Homo sapiens: one gene and its partners. The protein of the gene in region 3 interacts with the protein of the main gene of each other region in a biochemical or structural test. Each region holds a gene or a part of one and is shown on either strand. Other genes may lie near its edges. The genes, in order: TANC1, PDGFRB, MAGI1, TANC2, PRR16, LPXN and MAP4.

The links.
Region 1: the proteins of MAGI1 (region 3) and TANC1 interact in a test that uses a peptide from one of them, tested with the Homo sapiens proteins (one large-scale study listed by IntAct).
Region 2: the proteins of MAGI1 (region 3) and PDGFRB interact in a test that uses a peptide from one of them, tested with the Homo sapiens proteins (one large-scale study listed by IntAct).
Region 4: the proteins of MAGI1 (region 3) and TANC2 interact in a test that uses a peptide from one of them, tested with the Homo sapiens proteins (one large-scale study listed by IntAct).
Region 5: the proteins of MAGI1 (region 3) and PRR16 interact in a test that uses a peptide from one of them, tested with the Homo sapiens proteins (one large-scale study listed by IntAct).
Region 6: the proteins of MAGI1 (region 3) and LPXN interact in a test that uses a peptide from one of them, tested with the Homo sapiens proteins (one large-scale study listed by IntAct).
Region 7: the proteins of MAGI1 (region 3) and MAP4 interact in a test that uses a peptide from one of them, tested with the Homo sapiens proteins (one large-scale study listed by IntAct).

What each region holds. Positions count from the first base shown.
Region 1 is NC_000002.12:158,975,140-158,978,639, reverse strand, and holds part of TANC1 (protein TANC1), read right to left. Parts: intron 1-3,500. UniProt on the Homo sapiens protein: May be a scaffold component in the postsynaptic density.
Region 2 is NC_000005.10:150,145,846-150,149,345, forward strand, and holds part of PDGFRB (platelet-derived growth factor receptor beta isoform 1 precursor), read right to left. Parts: intron 1-3,500. UniProt on the Homo sapiens protein: Tyrosine-protein kinase that acts as a cell-surface receptor for homodimeric PDGFB and PDGFD and for heterodimers formed by PDGFA and PDGFB, and plays an essential role in the regulation of embryonic development, cell proliferation, survival, differentiation, chemotaxis and migration.
Region 3 is NC_000003.12:65,353,026-65,356,918, forward strand, and holds the end of MAGI1 (membrane-associated guanylate kinase, WW and PDZ domain-containing protein 1), read right to left. Parts: coding exon 3,353-3,893; 3' UTR 501-3,352; downstream 1-500. UniProt on the Homo sapiens protein: Plays a role in coupling actin fibers to cell junctions in endothelial cells, via its interaction with AMOTL2 and CDH5. May regulate acid-induced ASIC3 currents by modulating its expression at the cell surface.
Region 4 is NC_000017.11:62,969,235-62,972,734, forward strand, and holds part of TANC2 (protein TANC2), read left to right. Parts: intron 1-3,500. UniProt on the Homo sapiens protein: Scaffolding protein in the dendritic spines which acts as immobile postsynaptic posts able to recruit KIF1A-driven dense core vesicles to dendritic spines.
Region 5 is NC_000005.10:120,467,300-120,470,799, reverse strand, and holds part of PRR16 (protein Largen), read right to left. Parts: intron 1-3,500. UniProt on the Homo sapiens protein: Regulator of cell size that promotes cell size increase independently of mTOR and Hippo signaling pathways. Acts by stimulating the translation of specific mRNAs, including those encoding proteins affecting mitochondrial functions.
Region 6 is NC_000011.10:58,548,357-58,551,856, forward strand, and holds part of LPXN (leupaxin), read right to left. Parts: intron 2,877-3,500; coding exon 2,709-2,876; intron 2,525-2,708; coding exon of another isoform or gene 2,441-2,524; exon of another isoform or gene 1,797-2,440; intron 1,791-1,796; coding exon 1,617-1,790; intron 1,512-1,616; coding exon 1,430-1,511; intron 1-1,429. UniProt on the Homo sapiens protein: Transcriptional coactivator for androgen receptor (AR) and serum response factor (SRF). Contributes to the regulation of cell adhesion, spreading and cell migration and acts as a negative regulator in integrin-mediated cell adhesion events.
Region 7 is NC_000003.12:47,918,917-47,922,416, forward strand, and holds part of MAP4 (microtubule-associated protein 4), read right to left. Parts: intron 2,963-3,500; coding exon 2,849-2,962; intron 1-2,848. UniProt on the Homo sapiens protein: Non-neuronal microtubule-associated protein. Promotes microtubule assembly.

The DNA of each region.
Region 1 (3,500 bases), on a different chromosome or scaffold from region 3:
CCCATGATTTTGCTTTGTGGTAGTTGCAGACAGCTCACTATCTGCAGGCATTTAGATCTTCATACATCTCATCCACCAGGCCTTTCGTGTTACTCCACAAGGACTCTCCCTTGAACTCACTGCATCTGCTAGGATTGTCTTTAATGTTTTTGCACTATCATCCTATGGAACCTCCCATTTCACCTGTGTCAGTGTTCCCATGTGAAAGAACATGGCACTGTAAATAACATGCATGAGGGCACACAAACCAGCCAGGAAATAAAAATTTTCCAGGTCTGAATCCTGGGTCCTGCTGTCTTGGTTCTGTGAGCTCCCTGCCCTCAATCTCCTTTCATGTACATGGAGCTCCCTGCCTTCCTAAGGCTGCCAGAAGGCTGGAGGCGAGACCCACCCCAGAGTAACAAGTCCAGAGTGATGTTTAACAACTGTGGATTCTCTGTCTCCCTTTCTCCCAAAGGAGAAACAGATTGTTTTCTTTTTAAATGAGAAAGGTAAGACAGGACCCCCTACCATCAAAAAGCCTACAACCCATCTGCAAAGCCAATAGGCGAACAACTTAATAATAAAAAGCAAACAGAGAAAGACATTATAATGAATGTACAATGTACTAGGGAGACTAAAAGGAAAGAAAAACTGAAATGTGGAAGCGGGAGTAAATCAGAAAAAATGTTCATAAGAAAGCAATATTTATTTAAGCTAGCCCTTGAAAGTCAAAATTTCAGTGGTGGTGGTAGGGTGAGGGAAGAGGCAAAATTGAAACAAAGTATCAGGGACGGGCAGGAGTTCAGTGGTATTAGCAGAGACAAGGAGAGGACAGCTGGGCCTGCAAACAAGTTAGGGTCCAGATCACAGAGATTCTTGAAAGCTAAGAATAAAACAGGGACAGCTACTACTCTTATCTGTCCTTATATCAGGTATGATGCTTTCAGCTGCAAGTAACAAAAATACCTAACTCTAAGTGACTTAAATTGTGGTATCAAAGCTTTTTTGATCACGCAGGACTATCAGTTAAAAAAAAAAAAAAAAATTAGCCAGGCACGGTGGCTCATGCCTGTAATCCCAGCACTTTGGGAGGCCGAGGCGGGCAGATCACTTGAGCTCAGGAGTTTGAGACCAGCCTGGCCAACATGGTGAAACCCCATGTCTATGAAAAATACAAAAATTAGCCAGGTGTGGTGGTGCACACCTGTAATCCCAGCTATTCAGGAGGCTGAGGCAGGACAATCACTCGAACCCAGGAGGCAGAGGCTATGGTGAGCTGAGACAGCACCACTGCACTCCAACCTGGGCAACAGAGAAAGTTTCCATCTCAAAAAAAAAATTTTTTTTTAATTAAGCCAGGTGTGATGGTGCACACCTGTAGTCCCAGATACTTGGGAGTCTGAGGGGACAGGATCACTTGAGCCCAGGAGTTGGAGGCTGCAGTGAACTATCATCACACCACTGTACTCCAGCTTGGGCAACAGAGCAAGACTCCCTCTAAAAAAATAAAAAGTAAAAAATTTTAAAAACGTATTGAAGCTCAGGAATTTCAGGGGAAAAAATTTATAACATATATACTAACATATTATAAATTGTATTAATTTATGTGTAATTAAAACTAGTTATGAATGGTATGTATACACACACATGAATGTAGTATATACATTATACAACATTTAAAACTTTTAAAGGATGGGAGTCAAACAGTATTTTTAAGTTCATTTTTATTAATAATACAAATCCAAACATAATTTTGTTGTTGTTGTTGTTGTTTTTCAAGACGGAGTCTCATTCTGCCGCCGAGGCTAGAGTTCAGTGGCACAATCTTGGCTCACGGCAACCTCCACCTCCCAGGTTCAAGTGATTCTCCTGCCTCAGCCTCTCGAGTAGCTGAGATTACAGGTGTACACTACCACACCTGGCTAATTTTTGTATTTTTAGTAGAGACGGGGTTTCACCATGTTGGCCAGGCTGGTCTTAAACTCCTGACCTCAGGTGATCTGCCCGCCTTGGCCTCCCAAAGTGCTGGGATTACAGGCATGAGTCACCGCGCTCAGCCCATACATAATTTTTGAGCCACCTTCTTGTCAAATTTGTTTTAAAAGTCATGTTCTAAACTCATAAGAACATTTTCTTGTTCCTTTATACTTATATCATTATCATTACACTTTCTTTGCAAGAATCTTTTTAAACCACTCGCCCATTTTCTGGGGGTCAGTTTAGTTAAAACCAGATAATCTAGCCATAAATGTATTTAGATGGATAGAGTTCACCAAAGGCAAGAATAAGAATGAGGGTACCACTGTCAATTCCACCAGGTTGTAAAAGGCCCAGTCTTCCCTCAGGCAACCTCATATAATGTAAGTTGATAAAAGACTACCAGATATACCAACCAGTGTCAACTCATACATTAAATATTTTAAAAGCTTAATTTTTTCTAACATTCTTGAATATTTTCTTCCCTCCCATATTGGATGATCTAGCACACTCCACTCTGGGGACCACTGATCTTAAACAATAATGAGGCTGGGCACAGTGGCTCACACCTGTAATCCCAGCACTTTGGGAGGCCAAGGTGGGAGGATCCCTTGAGCCCAGGAGTTCGGGACCAGCCTGGGCAACATGGGGAAACCCCATCTCTACAAAAAATACAAAAATTAGCCAGGTGTGGTGGTGCACACCTGTAGTCCCAGCTATTTGGGAGGCTGAGGTGGGAGGATCACTTGAGCCCAGGAGGCAGAGGCTACAGTGAGCCATGATCATGCCACTGCAGTCCAGCCTGGGTGATAGAGTGAGACCCTAGCTTAAAAAAAAAAAAAAAAAAGATAAGAAAGAAACAATAACGAAAATGTTTTTTCTCACAGAAGTTCTGAGTCACAGTGGTTCTAGGGCTGGCTAATCAGCAGCTAAAATAAGTCATTGTGGGCTGGGGATGGTGGTTCACTCTGTAATCCAGCACTTTGGGAAACTGAGGTGGAAGGATTGCTTGAGGCCAGGAGTTCGAGACGAGCCTGGGCAACATGGTGAGACCCTGTCTCTACCCGCCCGCCTCCTACACCCCTGACACCGACAAAAAAAAAAAAAGTAATTGTGGTCTTAGGCCACCTTTAGTCTGCACTCGGTGCTACTTGTTCTCTTGTGCTGACAACCTTATGCTTCAAATATGCCAGGACCTAACAGGCGTCACATACATATTCATTAATGAGTCACTGGCAAAAGGTATGGCATTACTAAAATTGATGGCTTAATCAAAATTCACTCCCTGGGGCAGGGGACGCATCCACCTTACCCTTAAGTACATGGCCAGTGGAAAACTAATCAAAAGCAGGATTATAGTAGTAAGCACAGTCACCCCCCTCCACACCCAACCCTCCATATCTCAGGTTCCATGGCCACAGATTCAACAAACCTAGGTTAGAAAATATTCAAAAAATATTCTAGTAACTGACCACTGGAAAAAAGATAACAATACAATAAACACAATAAAATACAATAAATACAATAAAAATATAAATTTT
Region 2 (3,500 bases), on a different chromosome or scaffold from region 3:
CAGCCTGGGCAACAAGAGTGAAACTCCGTCTCAAAAAAATAAATTAAAAAATAAAGTCGTCAGCCTTATCTTTTCGCCTTCTTTGTCCCAACTTCTCCTTTCACTCTTTCACGCTGTCTTTTGAGCTGGGTAAAGCTGAAGCTGACAGTTTGAGTGGGAAACAGTCACTCCATTTTTCACAGAGCCCTACAGTCTTAGTACATTCCCTCTATTCACATCTCCCCCACCTTCTCTGCAATTGCACACCTCCCATGACAGGGCTCTCACCACCTCACCTGTGGCCCATTTCATTCTTAGCCAGCTTAGAATCTTCAGAGGGCAGACTATTGAGAATTGTTAATTACACTGAGTACAGTTTATCTCACTGTATTCTCTGCTTATTGGTCTTGCTTCTATCCACCAACCACCCTCTCCCCAAATACAGGACATCTTTCTAGTTATTGTTCTGATCCCCCCCAATCTGGAAACAAACAAAAGTCCCTACTAATTTAGAGCCAGGCACTCTGCTAAATGAGATGATCTGGAGATTTTGTTTCATCCTCACGACCACCCTGTGAGGGGGGTACACTCATTATTCCCATTTTACAGAGGAGAATGATGAGTCTCAGAGACTTTTGGTAACTTTCCCAAGGTCACACAATAAGTAAGATGCAAAGGAACGGGAATGCAAACTCAGGCCGGCCTGACTCCAAAGCCTATATTCTTTCTTTTTTTTAGAGACAGGGTCTCGCTCTGTTGCCCACGCTGGAGTACAGTGGTGTGGTGGCATGATCATAGCTCACAGCTCACTATAGCCTCAAACTCCTGGGCTCAAGTGATCCTCCCGCCTCAGCCTCCTGAGTAGCTGGGACTACAGGTGCGCATCACCACAACTGCCAAAACCTGAATTCTTGCCCGTCATGCCAGACTGTCTGTCTCCTGACCAGAAACAGTTCTGTCCATCTGTCCACAGAGAAACGTTCTCCCTCTAATGGCGTCCATACGGAATCCAGGATCTCAGGGATGAGAAGATCCTCAGGGATCTGGGTCCCGCCTCTGCTCTGACTGAGGGGCAGTGTATGCGGGAGGCCTGCCCCGGGTCACCAATAATTTTAAAGTCGAGCTAGGGATAGAACCCAGGACTAGGGATAGAACTCCACAATTTCGCTGCAGAGGCTGAGGGTGAGCACACAAGGCTGAGGAGAGAGTTTTTGCTTAGGAAAGCCAGGGTCTGGCAGGGGCAGTGCTCCTGCGGGATACAGCATCCAGGCAATCAGCCCAGGTGTGTGGCCGGCTCTGCCACAGGCCTGCTGTGCACAGGGTCCAGGCCTGCCCCTGTGGGGGCCCCAGCACCCCCTTCCACTGTTTGCAGAGGGCCAGGGCCTCTGTAGCTGCAGAGTTCCAGGCCTCCACCATCCTGCTGCTGCCCTCCCCATCCCCACCCCCCAGAGCCTCATCTCCGGCCGGTGCCATGGCAACAGGGAGTGCCAGGCCCTTGGCAGCCAAAGGAGCCCCTGAGAGGGGTCCCAGGCTGAGACTGAGGAGGGGGGTGCGGCAGGCGCAGACAAGCAAACCTTCTGTTCCCCGGGCTGCTGCCAGCCCGGAGCAGCCATGGGCTGGGGTGGGGGCCGCAAATAGAATGGGTTCTCAGAGCCAAGTGGGCAGGGGACAGGCAGGCCTTGGGCCATTCACACTGACCCACCAGCACACAGCCTTCCCCCACAGGCCCAGGGCCTGCAAATAGGGGAGGGGTAGCTAGCTAATGAGTAAACCCTTCACTTATCAGTGCCAATTACCAAACATTGAGATTCCCCTCAGAGCCCTCCTGGGCGGCAGAGCAGGAGGGCAGAGAACCCCCATGTTTCACTGACCCTCTCACTGTCTCAGCATCTGTCCTCCCACCCCTGTCTTCGGTCATTCACTTAACCACCCCTCTGTGCCTCAGTTTTCTCATCTGTAGATTGGGGCTCATCACTGGGTTGTCAGGGCTATTGAAGGAGTTAACACAAGCAAAATGCTTAGAATAGGGCCTGGCACACAGCCCTCTGCAAAGTTGGTGGCCACATTATTATTATTCATTCACTCAAGGGAGAAGAAGTCACTCACTCACTCGGCCTTGCGCGCACAGCCAAGACTCCACGGGACTAGGCTTCTCAGCAAAGTGATGCATGTGATAAATGAGACGGTGCAAGAAGGCCTCTCCCAAAAGACGCTCCTCAGGAAGAGGTAGCTGCTGATTATTGGTACAATCAGTAGCAACAGCCCTTTTCAGTGTCCTGAGGCTCAGTGAGGAGTGTCTCATCCTAGCACACTCGGCGATTCGGTGGCCAACCTAAGGCCAGACCCATCTAATCACCACTGTCTGTCAATTACTTCTTTCCTGAACTTTTGTCTTAGTCCTTTAATATGACTTCCCACAAATCAGGATACCTACCTAACAACGATCTGGACTCTCTTCAACTTCCTAATATGGAATTAGGCCTACAGTAGGTGCTCAGTAAACGCTTACACGATATGAGAGATTAAATGGCTCTGTAGGGTCAGCTCTTCAGTCCTGGGCCCTCGGCTGCCTCCTAATAACACAGGATTCACTAGGCTAGGGAACTGGCATGGATAGGCAATGGTGACTCTTTCCTTCCAGGGAGGTGATGGAGATGAGCTGGTGAGGGCAGAACAGACATATGGCACTCTGAAGCCAACAGGCTGCGCCTGATGCCATCCAGGGCAGGGATGGGAGCCCCGCCAGGCTGGGAGCAGTGGTTCCAGCTGGAAGCCACTTATTCCTGGGTCCAAGCCCCAGTTCTCTGAGTTTAACTTATCTGAGTCCCAATTTCCTGGGAAATGGCATGGGAGACCTCCTTTTCCATTTCTGGGAGGGCCAGAGATGATGACGCACAGCACTTGGCACATCATAGGTGCCCAGTAAATGGTGACTAACAACAGTATATGATTACTCCAGTGGGGAGAGCGGGTATGGCTTCCTGAGGGAGGTGGCCTTGAGCTAGGCCTCCAGGGTTTCTTGAGTTTTTTGGCAGATGATGCCAGGGAAAGGTATGGCCAGGGCTCTGTGAGAGATGAAAGGCATCTGGGAGAAATGGCAGGGAGAGATCTGTTGGGCTAGAAACTGGGGCTCTTCAGCAAACAGGTAGGTGATGGCCTGGGAAGGAGGCAGCAGGAGGCCAGGGAAGGAGGCAGGGAGACTTCAGGAAAGGTCTGCGGTGCTGTGTGAGGATTTTCTCTGGACCACCAACTTTTCAAGGTGTTGATAGTGATGGCGGGTAGTAGCTGCTGGCTTGGCAGGGCAATGCTGTAACTCCAGGCACTGTGGGGAGGGGGCCTCCATGCAGGAGGATGACACCAGCAGGCTGGCATTTAGTGGGAGGCTGTGGATTAGGATGGGGACAGTGGAGGCTGCAAGGCCAGTGTTGGGGATGAAGCCGTCCCAAACTCAGCCTGAACTCCCTGGCAGGACAAGCTACATAATTTGTGGGGCAAGCACAAAATGGAAATGCAGGGCTCTT
Region 3 (3,893 bases):
ACTGAGGACTCTTCTGATTGCCAAAGATGTGTATCTATTCTTAGCTCTGTGAAGTATGTCCTTTTACAGATGAGGAAATGGAGGCTTCAGAGGAGGTTAAGGAATGTGCCCAAGAATCACACCAGAAGTGATGAAGCTCTTAGCTTGGCAGGATTTGTTTTATTATCAGGGTTCTGTGCTATACTGTGCTGTGCTGTTTAAACTTTCATGTGCATAAGGCATAGCTGAGGATCTTATTAACTGTACATTCTGACTCAGTAGGTCTGGAGTAGGGCTGAGAATCTGCATTTCTAACAAGCTCCTCAGTGATGATGAGGCAGCTGGTCCACAGACCACACTTTGAGTAGCAAGGCACTATGCTATTGCAATGGCATAGATCCTGCTCTTTCAACACAACGGCATTTCATCAAGTTGGAGTCAGGGGCCCTCAATTGATTACTTGACCCTGATACATTTGAGACAACATAGAGACAAGGAAGATATCAATCCAGAAGCAATAGTGGTTGTGGAATGCATACATTTCCATGTATTTTTACAGTAAAAATGCATTAAAAAATCTTTCACAAAAGAAACTTAAAAAATACAATTAGGGTGTTGAGTCCTCCCCCCCAACATTCTTTCAGGCATCAACTGTGTAACGGAGGGAGACAAATTCCTAAATCGTTTGATTTCATCATACAAAATACTCATCCATTATCTCTCATCAAGACATTTACATTAAGTGGGGGAGGGGGGCGGCGGGATTAAGGAAAGTAGGCTCACAAGAATCAGTTTCCAATTTAAGGTTACAGCAGTTCAAAGAAAACTATATCTTTCTGCATAATGCATAGTCCCTGTACAGTACAATATTTCCAAACAAATCTGATGTGTGGAATTCAGGTGAAACTGCCACACCAAAAAGTCCACGGATTGAGACAAGCCCAGGTGGGTAGCACATAGATTTTAAATTGCCAAATATCATCTTACAACAAGAAGGACATCAAGATGTTAACTTCAGGATATATTCCCAAAATCCACCTTGATTTCATTTATTTAAAACTCTGGATCACAATTGAGAGCATCAGTCATTTAACATCACAGATTTTGTTAGAACTAGTGAGAAGAATCCTAGCAGTGGAGCCCTGGGAATAAAATCTCCAAGTCAGCTCTTAGGAACTTGATGAAAAAGAACATCATTATTCAGTTGTACTCTTCCTCAGCCTTACTACAGCTCAATGTATGCTTTGTATGGAAAACTTTAATAATAAAAATAGCATTCACAGACTTTTCCCTCCTTTTTAGCTACAGAATGTATATTGTGTCTGTTCCAGGAAAGGAACTTGTTTTATAAATGTCCACACAACTACAGCTACTCATTCTAATGTTATGTATAAACCCATAAGTCAAATAAAGCTATGAACAATGTAATATTTATATATGCATAGTGTTTTATAAAAAGATTGGCCCACATACTGCTTTTCATCAATACAGAAAGAGCATTAAGTCCATAGCACACTGCAAGAAATAAATGAGTGAAGAACAGAGAATGCAAACAAGTGCTTAATAATTCACAAGCAGGCTCACCATGGAGGAAATGATGATATTCAAACCAACTAAAGCTTTAGAGAATTACTTATATAGTCTCCCATTTTAAAACAACTTTACATACCTGATTTAGTTTACATTAAAATATATCCCCATGAATCAATTTGTTCCATATTCAGAAATATAAACACGTATCACATTCCTCACAGCTAAATTTTGTCATAAATTCTCTTTTATACAAGAAAAAAAGGCAACAGTTGTTTTCTTTTTTTTCCCAACAGGCTCTATTAATTACAATTTTTAGCTCTGTACACGCAATGATTGGCTGGTTTTCTTTTTTTTTTTCTTTTTCCTTTTTTTTTTTCTTACAGTACCATGGGAACAACAGTGATTGACTTGCAAAGTTTTCTGTCTCTATGGAAAATGCAAAACAGTACTACAGAAATACACAATGCACTGTAAGCAGCGGTTTGCTGTAGTGGTCCAACAGGTACAAGCAAACATTTTGGCTCAGCTAGGCAGTAATCCACTTAAACCACATCCCGGGGCTACGGCCGACCCAACCACAGCTCCTGTGGGATCAAAAAGAATGGGTCTGTTTAAAAATAAAAATTGTTATGTTTTGTGCTGCTGTCCAAAGGACTCAAAGGACAGAGTCATGAGGCAGAAGTTTCCCAACCAGACCTAGAATCACTGGGACCACTTCCTTCCTTTCCCTTCTACCAACCTAGAGACTTGGACTATGGTTTCAAAGTGAAATTGGCATTTCTAACAATGAATACCCACAGCCCTCACTTCTTTAAATATCAACAGAGAGGTTCCTTCCACCAAGGCTCATTGCCTCCTCCCCAGTTTGGCAAAGGGCAACCATGGGCTTCTACTAAAAGGGAGGGGGGCATGCTTTCCAAATTGGGGATCTTACGTCTTCCTCACACCAGGCACACTGTCCCCCCATTCCATCTACTATTCAGCCTCCAATCAGACGAGACAACACGAAAGATGCTTGTTGTCTCTTCCTCGTAGTAATTGAGCAAAGCTGTGATGGCATTGCCTTCAATGAGATTTTATCAGATGTTGGTGATGATCACGAACCTGACTGTCTGTGCTTGGGCTGTATTTGAGTAAAAGTGGCCGACATTTTTGTCTGTGTGCCTTCCTGGGCCAGGGAGAGTACAAACTGTTTTCTGAACCAACTATAACTCACAATATAAAACTTCTTTGTGCTGCGCAGTTTAGCTATAAATATCCTTCATTTGCAATAGTAGTCTTGTCATACAGTTTGCTTACTTTTAGGATCATCGGCAAACCTAATCCATCCCCAAGGGTCCTCAGCTTTTACAAATAAAACTTTGCATTTTTGCTCTTTGCTTTTAAGAAAAACTTCCGACTACAGTATAGCACTACATCACTACATGACAGTCTATATCAAATTAATTAAACTTAATCAATAAATTCCCTTACGTAGAGAAAATGATCAACAGCCCCATTTAACCAGGAGAGAAAAAGATTGCCCCAAAACGGGAACAATTCTTGACGATTCTACAGGTTACGTAGAAACAAAATTTATATCCCTTTGGGCCAGCATTTGGCAAATAATTTCCAAAAAAGTATGCATTTAAAAATACTTTCTTTAATATGATACATCAGGCACAATACTTTTCATATATATTTTTTCTTATAAGATTTCAAATGCATAAAATGTTTGTTGTTATTCATAGGATCATCAGGTGTCAGATGCTTCATTAGGTAAGAAACTAAATAATTTCAGGTTTGTGACTTTCCTCTTAGAACCTTTGACACGGTAAAGGTTGGAATGTGACTCAGCGTCTCAGATACTGAGGTCGGTGCTACATTCTTTGTAAGGTCGCCTTCTCTGCTCCGGGGGATGTCTGGAACTTCTGCCGGCATCCTGTTTCAGATTCGCCTCTTCCCTTTCTCGGTGGCTGGCTCTGTCCTCTCTGTTCCTTTTGTCCAGGGACCGCTCTCTCCTGCGCTCGGGGGAGCGTGCGCGCCTCCGGTCGGTGGACTTGGCCCTGCGCTCGGGCGAGCCCCCTCTCCTGCGCTCGGGGGACCTCCTCTGCTCCAGGAGTCTCTCCAGAGACCGTCTCCGCCGGCTGGGGGAGCCGTCTCTCCTGCGGGTGGGTGACCGCTCTCGCCTCCGCTCCGGAGAGACGTCTCGTCTCTTCTCGTGCTTCTCCCTCCTCTCCAAAGTGTTGTCGGCGCTGCGGGTGCCCTCCCTCCGCTTCTCTGGGGACCGCCTCTTGGGGCCGTTGGCGGCTGCCGCGCGCTCGGCCTGCGCGTCCCTCCGTCCCTCCGGCGCCCGGTCCTTGGGTCGGCATGCCCCGCTGTCGGGTTTCCTCGAAGTCCCA
Region 4 (3,500 bases), on a different chromosome or scaffold from region 3:
TATGTGTTGTTATTTCTGTTTTACAGATGAGAATCTGAAACACAGAGAGGTTAAATAACTTGCCCAATACTATATAGCTGAGAAGTAGAAGAGCTAAGTTTCCATTTAGGAATGCTAGCTCCAGAACCTGTGCTCCTCATCAATATGCTATATTGCCCTCTCACTCAAGGTAGTATTGGCAAGGCATAATTAAAATGCATGTGCCCATCATAAAGCAAGTACAATAGATGTGGATAAACCTGGACAACTCACATAGATGTTAAGTCTGCATATATACAAAAGATACAGTTATTTGCAGTGTGAACATTTCTCTTTAGGAATTTGTTTTTTAACTTATTTCTGGGATTATGCGTAGAGGAGTATTAGTACTTTTTATGTGGTTAAGGAAATATTTGTGATGGTGGTTGGTTTGAAGGGAACTTCAGAGGTAAAAAGTTAATTTCAAGTAGTTTAATATAGTGTGTGTGTGTGTGTGTGTATATAAATACACATTCATACACACACACACAGCCTTTTTAAGAGCACCAGTAAACCTTTACTGCTTATTTTCTGTAGGGAAATTAAGGATAAATTACAATATTTTTCTTCCTACTCATATTTTTATGACCTCTTTTTCATTTATATTAAAAACTACCATAATTAGCACAAATGGATTAGATGCCTATGTACATTTTACCTCTAATGTCAACAAATGTTTGTTCAGATTTTTCTCACACTTAAACATTGTTTTATAAGATATTGACCACATATGACAAAGTATTTATAAAAATGTGTAAAATATAAAGACTTCACAATGCAGCCAACACTTACATGCCTTTTACCCAGTTTAAGAAATGGAACATCATCTTTCACAATTATAATAGTTATTTTCTTCTCTTAGCCAAATTGCTTCTGCCATTCTTTTTCAACAGAAACCTTTCCTTATTGTGCTGCGAATTGCATATCTCATGTAACCAAACACTTCCCTTTTTATATACATTTGTTGATATGGGAATTCAATATAATCTACTGCTTATGGCTAAAACTTATTCAGCATATATGCTTACGTAATTTAATATATTTAATAAATTGTCATACACTCAGACTATGCTTTGTATTTGTATTGGTTACTGGTTGGTAGTTCATTTTAGCATACTTCACTTGTAAAACTTAATTTGGTTTGCAAATTAGGATTTTACTAACATTGTTAAACATTAATAGATTATTTCCCTCTTCCATCATGAATTCTTGACTGTCCCACGCTAGCTCTGTTTTTTCTTCTTTTCCCCATAACTGCCTTTGCTCTTTATTTCTTAAGTGAGTATGAATTATTTTGAATGGAGAGGGAAGGAGACCCTAGAAAGGAGTATACTAATCCAGTCATTTCAAAGGGGACTATTAGGGTAGTTGGTACTGATTGAATATATGGTAGAACAAGTGTGCATAAAAGAAATGCATGAAAATCCTCTCCTTGTCATATTTCTTCCTTTTACAGTAGAATTAAAATGAGATCTGAGACACTCTGATTGGGCACACTAGCTGAATATTGTTGGATTGAACTTACCCAGAATCACCAATGTTAGCTGGGATATTTTTGCTGACAGTACAATATGCAGATTTTAATTCAGGGAGCTAGAACAAGCTGTTGCAGAGGGCTGTTTACTCTTCTAGTACTAGTCTAATCAAGGCACCAAATATTATAAAATAGTTTGGAAGCTAGTTCAATTATTTGGACTTTTTTTTTCTTTCTGAATGACTTGAGACTCAGCATTGTTATATTTGCTTAATGTGCCTGTAGTCATCAAATGCTGTGATTATTTTGAGGGAAAGGCACTCTGTAAATATACTATACAAATAAATAGTTTAGACTTCGTTGTAATACCGTGAGAATACCGCTTGGTTTCTTTGAATAGCGTCTTTTGTAGTAACTTGCATTAGATGAAGACCGTTTAAAATGAAAAAAAAAATGAGTTAAGGAGATGTGTGTATGGTGATGCAGAGTGTATATCCCTGATGAGTTTCTTGAAAAGGCCACGGAGAGAAATAGGTTAAAGAAGAGCTTAAAGACTAGAGCTGTGTTTTCCCACTCAGCAGTCTCCTGCTGCCCTTCGCTTTCCCTTTCTTTTCTCTTTTCAAGACAGGATCTCACTATGTCTCCCAGGGTAGGGTGCAGTGGTGTGATCTTAGCTTATTGCAGCCTACGTCTCCTGGGCTCAGGCGATCCTCTCACCTCAGCCTGCTGAGTAGCTGAGACTATAGGCACGTGCCACCATATCCAGCTAATTTTTGTACTTTTTGTAGAGACAGTGTTTCACTCTGTTGTCCAGGCTCATCTCAAACTCCTGGACTCAAGTGATCCACCTGCCTTGGCCTCCCAAAGTGCTGGGATTACAGGTGTGAGCCAACTGTGCCCAGCCAGTTTTCTTTCTTTTAGAGCAGGGGTCTCTAACCCCTGGACCATCATGGCCTGTTTGGAACCAGGGTGCACAGCAGGAGGTGAGTGGCTGGCCAGCCAGCATTACTGTGTGAGCACCTCCTCCTGTCAGATCAGCAGCTTCATTAGATTCTCATAGGAGCTTGAACCCTATTGTGAACTGCTCATGAGAGGGATCCGGGTTGTCCGTCCTTATGAGAATCTAATGCCTGATGATCTGAGGTGGAACAGTTTCATCCCCAAACCATCTCTGCCCCCCTACCCTCTGGAAAAATTGTCTGGAAAAACGTCCCTGTTGCCAAAAAGGTTGGGGACCGCTGTTTCAGAGGACATTTTACTTTGCGTATTTAAGATTCAAGGTAATATTAGATGGAGAACAGGAACTTTGGGTCTGAGTTTTAGAAGGCTAAAGCAGGTTACGCAATTAGTGAAAAAACTTTCTGGGACCTTTTTTTTTCTAGAAGGGTCAAAGTAACTATAATACCATAATTTTTTCTGGAAACAAATTTATTAGGTCAGTTTATTTTAAAAAATCTTTATAAATTATGTGAAAGCTGTGTTTGTGGATATGTCATATAAGTTGTTTTTTTGTTGTGGGCCACACATGACGTATCTTGTTATGTTCGGTCTCTTGTTTGCTCTTGAATAGTTAAAGGTAAGCATTACTAAATTTAAGAGTCAAAATAATTGTGTTAGTGTTCTATTATGCCTTTTCTTCCCCGTAATATCAATTTCTGTCTTTATTCACTACATGGTTTATAGTGCATCTTAAACTCCTTTCTTTGTTTATCAGAACTTAAGAGAGTCTCATGTCACTCATTTAAACTGAGTAGTTGCATTATAGAAATGATCTTGTTGGTGTGTTTTTTTAAAAATCCAATTGCTGAGGAAACACCTTTAGTGTTTTTGTCAACTTTGCCTACATTTCTTCCATTGCGTTGCTTCCAGAGTGATCTTTCTAGATAGTCATTTGATCATGTCACTTTTTTCTTCAGAATCTTTCACTGGCTCCTCATCACTGAATGGATAAAGTGGAAACTCCTTAGCAAACCGTTTAAGGTCCTTAATGATCTGGTCCCTGCCTCCT
Region 5 (3,500 bases), on a different chromosome or scaffold from region 3:
TACTATCTCGGACCTCAGATTTCTTATGTGTAAAATGGGCAATATCAGTAACTTCCTCATCTACCTGTTTTGAGAATTAGATAATTTAATATAAATAAATGCGCTGAGAAGAGTACCTGGCAGAGAGTAAGACCTCTGTTAGATATTCATATTGCCAAAACTGCTCTTTCTAGTGACGTTTAATAACCATGAAAAGCTGGAAATAAATAGAATACCCAATATTAAGGGAAGTATGAAGTAACTTATAGCAAATCTGTGTAATAGTTACGATCTATATCATTCAAGAAAGTAGAAAATGTCATTGCTTATAATTTATAACTTTGTATAACTTCATCTATGTTAAAATATGCATACAAAAAGACTAAAAGAAAATATGACAAAATGTTTAGTATACTTATTTTTATGTGGTACTAAAGATAATTTTTGTTTTCTCCTTTATATTTCTTTAGATTTTTGCAAACTTTCTATAATATTCATGTGCTGCTCCTAACATCAGAAAAAATAAATTTGATTTTTTTAATAGTGCCCTTTGTTGTTTGTTAACTTTGTATTTGCAGCTTGATGTCAGTCATGTATATTTCAATCAGAGTTGAATCAGCGACCTACTGGAATTTTATTACTCTAAATCTCTAAAATTGCCCCTGAAATTTTTCAAGAACTATCTCTACAGAAGAAAAGTTCTATAGTTTGGGAAAATATGTTTTGCTCAAACTTGCATTTCTATCTTTTTTCCTACATTTAGATTTAAGTACCTGAGATCCTCAGAGAAGCAAGGATGAAAATAACATAATCCAGGTAATAATGAAACCTATTACACTGGCTTTATTATCTATTACTTCACTGTTGCCTGAAACACACTATCTATTACTTTAAGGCTGCTTGAATTTCTTATCAGCTAATTCTCTAAGTGTTGAATGTTTTAATTCATTGGAAATAGACAGTGATGGATGATTATTGGCTACCTCTATGTTCTCAAAATTATTTTTGGTAACTGCTAGGCCATCATGCCTAAGTAAAGAAAAATTTCAGAGCATTTTAGCATTTGGTAAATATACCACAGTTTGGGGAGGTAGACTGTGGTATAAAGTAGTAAAAGTATGACTATTGCTACAATTAAAAGAACTACTAAATTCTATTTATACACAACTTTAGAACTTGGAAAATACTTCAAGCCAGACATGGTGGCTCATACCTATAATTCTACCACTTTGGGAGGCCTAAGCAGGAGGATGACTTGAAGACAGGTGTTCAAGATCAGCCTGGGGAATATGGCAAGACACCATCTCTATCAAAAAAAAAAAAATTAAAAATTAGCCAGGCATGGCGGCGCATGCCTCTAGTCCCAGCTACTCAGAAGGCTGAGGTGGTAAGACTCCTTCAACCTAAGAGATGGAGGCTGCAGTGAGCCAAGATCTCTAACACTGCCCTACAACCTAAGTGACAGGGCAAGATACTGTCTCAAACAAAAAGAAAATAGTTCCGAGATTATTCTCTATAATTTTTTCTTGTAACGAATTTTTTATGCATGGGCTCATTAACCAAAAAATACTCGGTAGGAATTTCCAGACAATAAACTATAGAACATCAAGTGGTTAAGACATTAAAAGAGGGAACATTTAGAAGTGAAAATATTTTTCAGATAATTGTTAATTCTGTTTTCATCAGTTCAAATCAGACTGTTTCCTATGGGGTTCAAATTGTTCAAAATTCAACTTAAATTTATTTCAGTTTATGCCATTGTAAGACAAATTATGGGTGCTTTCCAGTCCATGGCAACAATGCTGACATACTTCTCACCAATGGAGATCCAGTCACTGAGTGATTCTAAGGCAACAACAAAACAACTTTATTTTAGTTTCTCTGTTAGAGTCATGTCTATTCAGAAAGCCTCTCAAGAAATTATTTACATATGTTTTTCAACTCATATAGTAGCCTTGTTACTTGAAATCATAAAAATAAACACTACAAGAAAAGCTCAAGGTTATAACAAGTCTAAACTAAAAGAGAATCCAGCTAAAGCTGCAATTAGTTTTGTTTCCAGATAAAAGGCTGATTATTACAGATTCCAGTGTCACTCTGACCAATAAGATATGTGATCCCATATTAATACCAGCATTTAATGCAAAATAGTTTACCAGTGAGATCTTCATAAAAGAACAGGCATATTGCTACTCAAAGGCATTAGATTATTTGAGAACTATTTTAAAAAGCAATTGCTTTGTTTCTACATTTCTTAGTGAAAAAGTATCACTCACACCTACTCTACCAGTTATGGTTAATTTTATCACTAAAACTCTAGAGTTTCACCACTATTTTCTTCTTTTTTTTCAATGTGTAGAAAAATGCAACATGGATTACTCTTGTAGTCCAAACCTATTTCCTTTTACCTGTGACTACCTCTTAAAACCCTATTTACATTAAGAAAAAGAAGAATTCAAAATCTTCCTTTTTAACTCTCCATTTCTCCAAAAGACTTAGCTTTCATGGAAATCTTCAGTATTTAGTTACAACATTTGAATATGTAATCTCCTGTATATGGTATTGATCCATTTATGTTAACCATGACAATCTAAGTCAACTGTAAATTTCTTAAAATTCATATATTTTCATCTTTTTAAGCTTATTTCTTCATCAAAGACTTGCCATACTACTAAGTATGCAGCACACATCATTTTATAAATCAACATATACTCACTCTCATTCTCAATTCTCGATTTCCCCAAGCCTGCAGTGAGAGTGGCCACTAAAGGCCACAATGTCTTTTTATACTGCTGATGTTGGAAGACAGGATAAATATATCCCTAACTAACCTTTGGAGCTCACTGAGACCAGAAACTATGCCTTATTCATCTTGGTAGCAATTTAAAAGGTGTTATAGTACTTGGAACATGGTAGGTGCTCAATAAGTATACTGAATTATATTTAAGGCTTTTCCAATATATTAATAGCATAGAAAACAAAAGGACCCATATTATTTCTGAAAAGTCAAATTATTTGAGATTTTACTAAATTCTGAGAGTAGAATAAGGCTGCTCTTTGACTTTCTAGAAAGCCTGTTCCTCTGCTTCTAATATATAATCCAATTATAACTGATTAAGTAATTATAACTAAATAATCATAAAACAGATACCCAAAATAACAACTCTTCTTGCTGAGCAGACTAGAGTTTTGTCACTACTTATTAAAGTGTTTCAAGCAATTACTATTATGTTTGATTCTATCCTACTACCTGAGTTTTCAGATGACTTAAGCCCAGAAAACTTCTATGAAGAAAAGCAATTTCAGAGTAACCTCAAACCAAAGTTTAATATTGTTGGTGCAGAAATTACACAAAAACAAAGAACAGAATTAAAGAAGATTGCATTTTAACTAGATATTTTTTAAAAGCAGAAAGAAAAAATAAATACTATATGATGACTGCCATAGTGATATAGTCATAACTACTTTTTTATTTTTAATTTCTGTTGCAAGTTAAGAAGAGCTCGCCGATAATTTATATT
Region 6 (3,500 bases), on a different chromosome or scaffold from region 3:
TTAATGAACCAGAATGACTGCTACTCAGCAGGAAGAAATCATTTCATGTTGAATCAGGAGGAGGAAAGTCTCCTGGAGGGATATCTCCAGAAAAAAAAAAAAGAAAAGAAAGAAACTGACTTGTTGCCAGATGTAGTTGGCCATTTTGAAAAGAATTTCACAGTTCTGTTGCATAACTTAGTGATAAGTACAATAAAAACTAAGCCAATTTCAAAAAGGATTCAAATGTTAACTTTAGAAAAAAATGAATTTATACCAAAAGGACACTGTGATAATAATATTAACACTACTATACCTCCATGTGCTTGGCACTATTCTAAATACCACGCTTGTATTGTCTCTAAATCCTCATAACAACCCTATAAGGTAGGCAATTTCATTAGGACTATTTTACTGATGAGGAAAGTAAGGTACAGAGATGTTAAATGACTTGAACAAATACCACAACCCAGATTTGAACCTGGAAGTCTGACTCTAAAATCCAGACTCTAGTGTAGTCAGTTTGCTACATGGCTTACTTGTGAGCAGTATTCTATGATTGTCAACATATGCACACTTAATACTGATCTAACCTGTAATTATGACATAATTATATATTGAAAAAACAGGGGAGGGGAAATATGTTAGGAGTGAGTGGGGTAATAATAACATTTCTAAACCTCATCTTCCCTCTTAGACAGTCAATACATAATGGTTAAAACTGGAAAAATAAAACAATCTATAACAATATAAAGTTATTATTTAAAACACATAAGCAGGCCAGGCGCAGTAGTTCATGCCTGTAATGCCAGCACTTTGGGAGGCCAAGGCGGGCGGATCACGAGGTCAGGAGTTCAAGACCAGCCTGGCCAATATGGTGAAACATTGTCCCTACTAAAAATACAAAAATTAACCGGGTGTGGTGGCAAGTGCCTGTAGTCCCAGCTACTTGGGAGGCTGAGGCAGGAGAATCGCTTGAACCCAGGAGGTGGAGGTTGCAGTGGGCGGAGATCGCACCAGAGATCGCACCACTGCACTCCAGCCTGGGCAACACAGTGAGACTCCGTCTCAAAAAAACAAACAACAACAACAACAAAAAATAAGTAAATATCAGAAGAAACAGCTAAAATAATTTGGAGAGGAGAACTGGATTTGGAGATGAGAAAGGGACTTTTTCAATATTCAACAAGAAAAGGCTTTTTCAATATTACCCTTGAAGTAATATTTGAGTTTTTAAACTATGCATTTGTATTTCTGTGATTTAAAAAATCAATTTAAAGGGAAATTATAAATGTTGGAGAAAGGTAGGGAGGGATGGTATCTAGTACTGAAATGGGCACTTTGATAGTACTGATAGGAACCAGGACTCCCGTGACTACCAGGAAAGGTGTTGCTGGTCTTATAACTACCCACTGGGGTGTGGGATACAGCCTCTCAAGTCGGGTCATACCTTCTGCACCAAACACCTCTCCGCAGTGAGAGCAGAAGAAGTGCTCTGGGTGCCAGGTCTGGTTCATTGCTGTCAGCACTTTCTGGAAAGGGAACACACAGATATTATAATGATGCAGAAGTTGTAAAGCATGACTCTGGTTCTAAGTGAGTGACTGAAAGCTGGAGAGGAGCGGGGATTTACTTACATCCAGGATGGGAGCAGCGCAGTAAGCACAGCGTGGAGAAAAAAGTTGGTGGTAGTCGTTGGGGCAGTAGGCCAAGCCACTCCGCTCAAAGAAGGGACTGGAGCCAATCTCTTCTTTGCAATGAGTACAGACAAAATGCTCAGGATGCCATGATTGCCCTAGAGCATGGATCACCTGTGGAGTGAAATAAAGCCTGACACAGGAGGCCAGTTGAGTGCTCTACAGCCTACAGGTTGCACAACTCTAGGGAGCACTCTTCACATTGTACCCCTTGTAGACAACACGCCCTGGAATTATACAACACTGAGGCCTAGACCTAGGTTCCACCTAAGGCCATCTGTGGTCTGTGCTTTATGGATTGATAATAAAAGGATGCCCACTTCCGGGACTGATCACTGTGATGAAAGCCTGTAAATGTTCACAACCACTGCACTGCCACAGGGGGTGGCAGAAACAACATATAGCACATTGATGACAGAGAAGTTGTAACTGTAGCCTTAGTGTGGAAGGGACCCCTGGAAGAGGAAAAGGCCAAATGACAGTTTTTATTCCTCTAGTTTGAACACTTTATTCCACGCCCCATGCAGTCAGGTCTCAAAGCTTTTTATCATAGCTTCGGTGAAGGACGATGCAGAACAGGAGTTTGCAGCTGTGACTTGGAGCTGAGTTCAGCTGAAAATTGTAATCAATCAATTTAGACTGGGAATGTGTGAACAAAGGGAGCAGTGAGAAAGGTCATCTCAGTAAAGGCAGTACAGAAAAATGGTCAAGAACTCAAACTCAGGAGACAGTCTCCTGGTTTCAGATCTTACCTCTACCTCTTATTATGCCTTGGATATGTCCATTAATGTCTCTGAGTCCTCAGTTTCCTCATCTTTACAAAGGGAGCAATCATTCTTCTTGAAGGGCTGATGTGACCATTAAATGAGGAAATACTTGTAAAGCACTTAGCTCAGTGGCCAGAGCACTGTAAGTGATTAGTAATTATTAATGCTAACTAAAATATCTTAAAATATAAGGGGAAAGAGCAAACCTTGATGAGACAGAGAGAGACAAAGAAGGCTGTAGGACCAAAATTTCAGCCCATCTCACCTTCCCAGCAATCGGTTTCTGGCAGGATGCACAATGGCCCTTGGGCACTGTGGCAATGCCAAGGTCCTGCAATTCCTGCTCCAGACCCCCAAGCATTGAGTCCAGGGAGGCCTTGTGATCCTGCTTGTCTGGTAAGTGCTTCTTGCCAGCATCTGCTCTCACTGCAACCTGGCCCAAGGGAAGAACCAAGAACAGAATCAGCCTCATTTTTATTCTCATTGGCATCTTCTAATGACTCTATAAATTCACCTCTACTGACTGATCTCTTGGCCTTTCCCCAACCTTCCTGCAAGACATTGGAAAAATCTAAAATTTCAACACCAATAAAAATCTTTTCATCTCCCTTTCATCCTAAACTCCTCAGGCCAAATGAAATCTGACTAATTTTATATTTGTAAATCTTTTCTTAATGTAGGAAATTTAGTACATGAAGATGATACCCTTTGAAGATCTTAGGATGACCCCAGTTCAAAAATTAGTCACATCTCCCTTTTACTCATTTATTTGGCAATAATTGTTGAATACCTGGTTTGTGCCAATCACTGCTCTAAGCACTTGGATTAAAGCAAAGATAAGACAGACCAAGTGTCTGGCCTCATGGAATTGCATTCTGTGGGCGATAGACAATAAATAATTAAATAAATAAATATATGTTGTAATGTCAGACAGAGATAAGTTATAGAAAGAGATAGAAGGGACACAGCAAGATGGTAAGAAGAATTGATTTAGATGGAGGTAATAATCAAAGAAGGCCCCTCTAAGGAAGTAATATTTGAGTAGATACTTGGGACT
Region 7 (3,500 bases), about 17 Mb from region 3:
GTTTTGTTTTGTTTTGTTTGTTTTTTTTTTGAGACAGAGTTTCGCTCTGTTGCCCACGCAGACAGAGTGAAGTGGCGTGATCTCGGCTCACTGCAAGCTCCGCTTCCCGGGTTCACGCCATTCTCCTGCCTCAGTCTCCCGAGTAGCTGGGACTACAGGCGCCTGCCACAGCTCCCGGCTAATTTTTTGTATTTTTAGTAGAGGCGGGGTTTCACCATGTTAGCCCGGATAGTCTCGATCTCCTGACCTCTTGATCCAACCGCCTCGGCCTCCCAAAGTGCTGGGATTACAGGCGTGAACCACCGCGCCCGGCCTAAGAGGTATTTGATATTTAAAATCAGCTGCATATATTGCCAGGAAGACACAGACTAATAAAAAACAATGCAAAAAAAGTTTTTTTTCTTTTTTTGAGACAGAGTCTCGCACTGTCGCCTGGGCTGGAGTGCAATGGCACGATCTCGGCTCGCTGCAATCTCTGCCTCCCAGGTTCACGCCATTCTCCTGCCTCAGCCTCTCAAGTAGCTGGGACTACAAGCACACACCACCACACCTGGCTAATTTTTTTGTATTTTTAATAGAGATGGGGTGTCACTATGTTGGCCAGATTGGTCTCGAACTCCTGACCTCATGATCCACCCGCCTTGGCCTCCCAACGTGCTGGGATTACAGGTGTGAGACACCGCGCCCGGCCGACAACGCAAACAAGTTTTAAAGGAAACACTGCTGACATTCTTCAGGTTTTAGCTAGTTGTTAGTAGGTGGTATAGTATATCCCAGTAGTGCCATTAATCAACATTCACTGGCTACTTTCTATATAATATATAAAGGGTAATATAAAGATTCAAAATATTAATGATTGAACTCTAGTTCCAACACCACAACCAACATAATATACTATAGTAAAAAACTGCGAGTCTTAATTTCTTCATCTGCAAAATGAGATTAACACCTCCCTTTCCAACATTAGAAGACAATTTTATTAAAATACTTTGTAGCAGTTTTGTTGTTGTTGTTGTTGTTGTTGTTTGCCCAGCTAATTTTCTTATTTTTATTATATTTATTTATTAATTTTTGAGATGGATTCTTGCTCGTTGCCCAGGCTGGAGTGCAATGGCACAATCTCAGCTCACTGCAACCTCCACCTCCCAGGTTCAAGTGATTCTTCTGACTCAGCCTCCTGAGTAGCTGGGATTATAGGTGTCTGCCACCACTCCCAGCTAATTTTTGTATTTTTAGTCGAGACAGTGTTTCACCATGTTGGCCAGGCTGGTCTCGAACTCCTGACCTCAGGTGATCTGCCCACCTCCGTCTCCCAAAGTGCTGGGATTACAGGCATGAGCCACCACACTCGGCCTAATTTTTCTATTTTTAGTAGAGATGGGGTTTCACCATGTTGGCCAGGCTGGTCTCAAACTCCTGACCTCAGGTGATCTGCCCGCCTCTGCCTCCCAAAGTGCTGGGATTACAGGCATGAGCCATTAGGCCCAGCCTAATTTTTGTATTTTTAGTAGAGACGGGATTTCACCATTTTGGCCAGGCTGGTCTTGAACTCCTGGCCTCAAGTGATCCATCCGCCTTGGCCTCCCAAAGTGCTGGGATTACGGGCGTGTGCCACTGCACCCAGATGGTTTTTTTTTTTTTTTTTTTTTTTTAAGACAGGGTCTCAACTCTGTTGTCCAGGCTGGAGTACAGTGGCATGATCATGGCTCAATGCAGCCTCGACCTTCTGGGCTCAAGCAATCCTTCCACCTCAGCCTCTTGAGTAGCTGAGACTACAGGCATGTGCCACCACGCCTGGATGAATTTTAAAATTTTTTGTAGGACAGGATCTCCCTATGTTGCCCAGATTGGTTTCAAATTGCTGGGCTCAAGCAATCCTGTCACCTCAGCTTCCCAAAGTGCTAGGGTTACAGGCATGAGCCACTGTGTCTGCCTGTAAATGAAGAAGTAGAAAAATGTGGCTGGGTGCAAAGGCTCACGCCTGTAATCTCAGCACTTTGGGAGGCTGAAGCGGGTGGATCACTTGAGCCCAGGAGTTCAAGACCAGCCTGGGCAACGTGACAAAACCCCATCTCTACAAAAAATTAGCCAGGCATAGTGGTACACACCTGTAATCCCAGCTGCTCAGGAGATTGAGGTGGGAGGATCACCTGACCAGGAGGCCAAGGCTGCAGTGGGCCGTGATCGCATCACTGCACTCCAACCTGGGTGACAGAGTGAGACCCTGTCTCAAAAAAAAGGGGAGATGACAGCCCAACTGTGAATCTGTGAATTGTCTCCTTTGATTAATCCAAAGAGAGCCTTGTCACACCCACAGCCCCTAAATCTGACTTTTCTTAGTGGTTAGCTTCAAAGGTGATGTGTGAAAGGCCATGTTGATTGTTTGGCATTAAACAACTAAAGGACACCAGAATATGCCACCCCAAAATACGCTACTTTGGCATAAGGACTTTTTTAAGCTGAAGGCTATTATTAGCCTGGAGATGGCACCATAGGAATCTACACAGCAACCTTTACTAACTAGCTTTTACCTACCATTTACCTGTCTCCCACAATTTGCGGCCCCTAGAGACTCAAAAGTCTTTTCCTTCATCTTCTCACCTCTCAAAAAAAAAATTTGTCATTCTTTATTGAAGAAGCTATATAAGGTGGAATTCTAAAGCCACCTCTTGCGGAGTTACTCATTCCCTAGGTACCTCTCATGTACATATTAAATTCACATTTTAAACTTTGGTCTCTTTTTTCTTGTTAATCTTTTGTCACAGAGCCCTAGTCAGTGAACCAAAGATGAGTAAAGAAAAAATTTTTTTCCTTCCCTACAGAATAAATCCATTTGAAGAAGCCATACCGTAACTGTCTTTCAAGGGATCATTTTGTCCTGCAAATATTGAAGTATCAGCTGTCGCACTGGAGGGAAAGACCAAATCTGCCAGGTCATCATCATGGTACATCTTAAAGGGATCTGGAATATAGAAGAAATCCAAAACTCATTCCTGGTGAATGCAACTAGAAAGATTAATATTTCTTTCTTTCTTTCTTTTTTTTTTTTGAGGTGGAGTCTTGCTCTGTTGCCAAGGCTGGAGTGCAGTGGTGCCATCTTGGTTCACTGCAACCTCTACCTCCCAGGTTCAAGCAATTCTCCTGCCTCAGCCTCTTAAGTAGCTGGGATTACAGATGCCCGCCACCATGCCTGGCTAATTTTTGTATTTTTTTGTAGAGACAAGGTTTCTCCACGTTGGCCAGGCTAGTCTCAAACTCCTGATCTCAAGTGATCTGCCCACCTCGGCCTCCCAAAGTATTAGGATTACAGGCGTGAGCCACCATGCCTGGCCAATATTTCTTATTATCCTATGATGAATATAGATGAGTTGTCAATAGTAAGTAAACCGAAATCATATGTGACTGCACATGGTAGAGAATCAATATTCACTAATTCATTTGTTATGAGTTAATAATAAATAATCCCTTCTCTAAGATTTGGTTATGTACATCAGATAGCC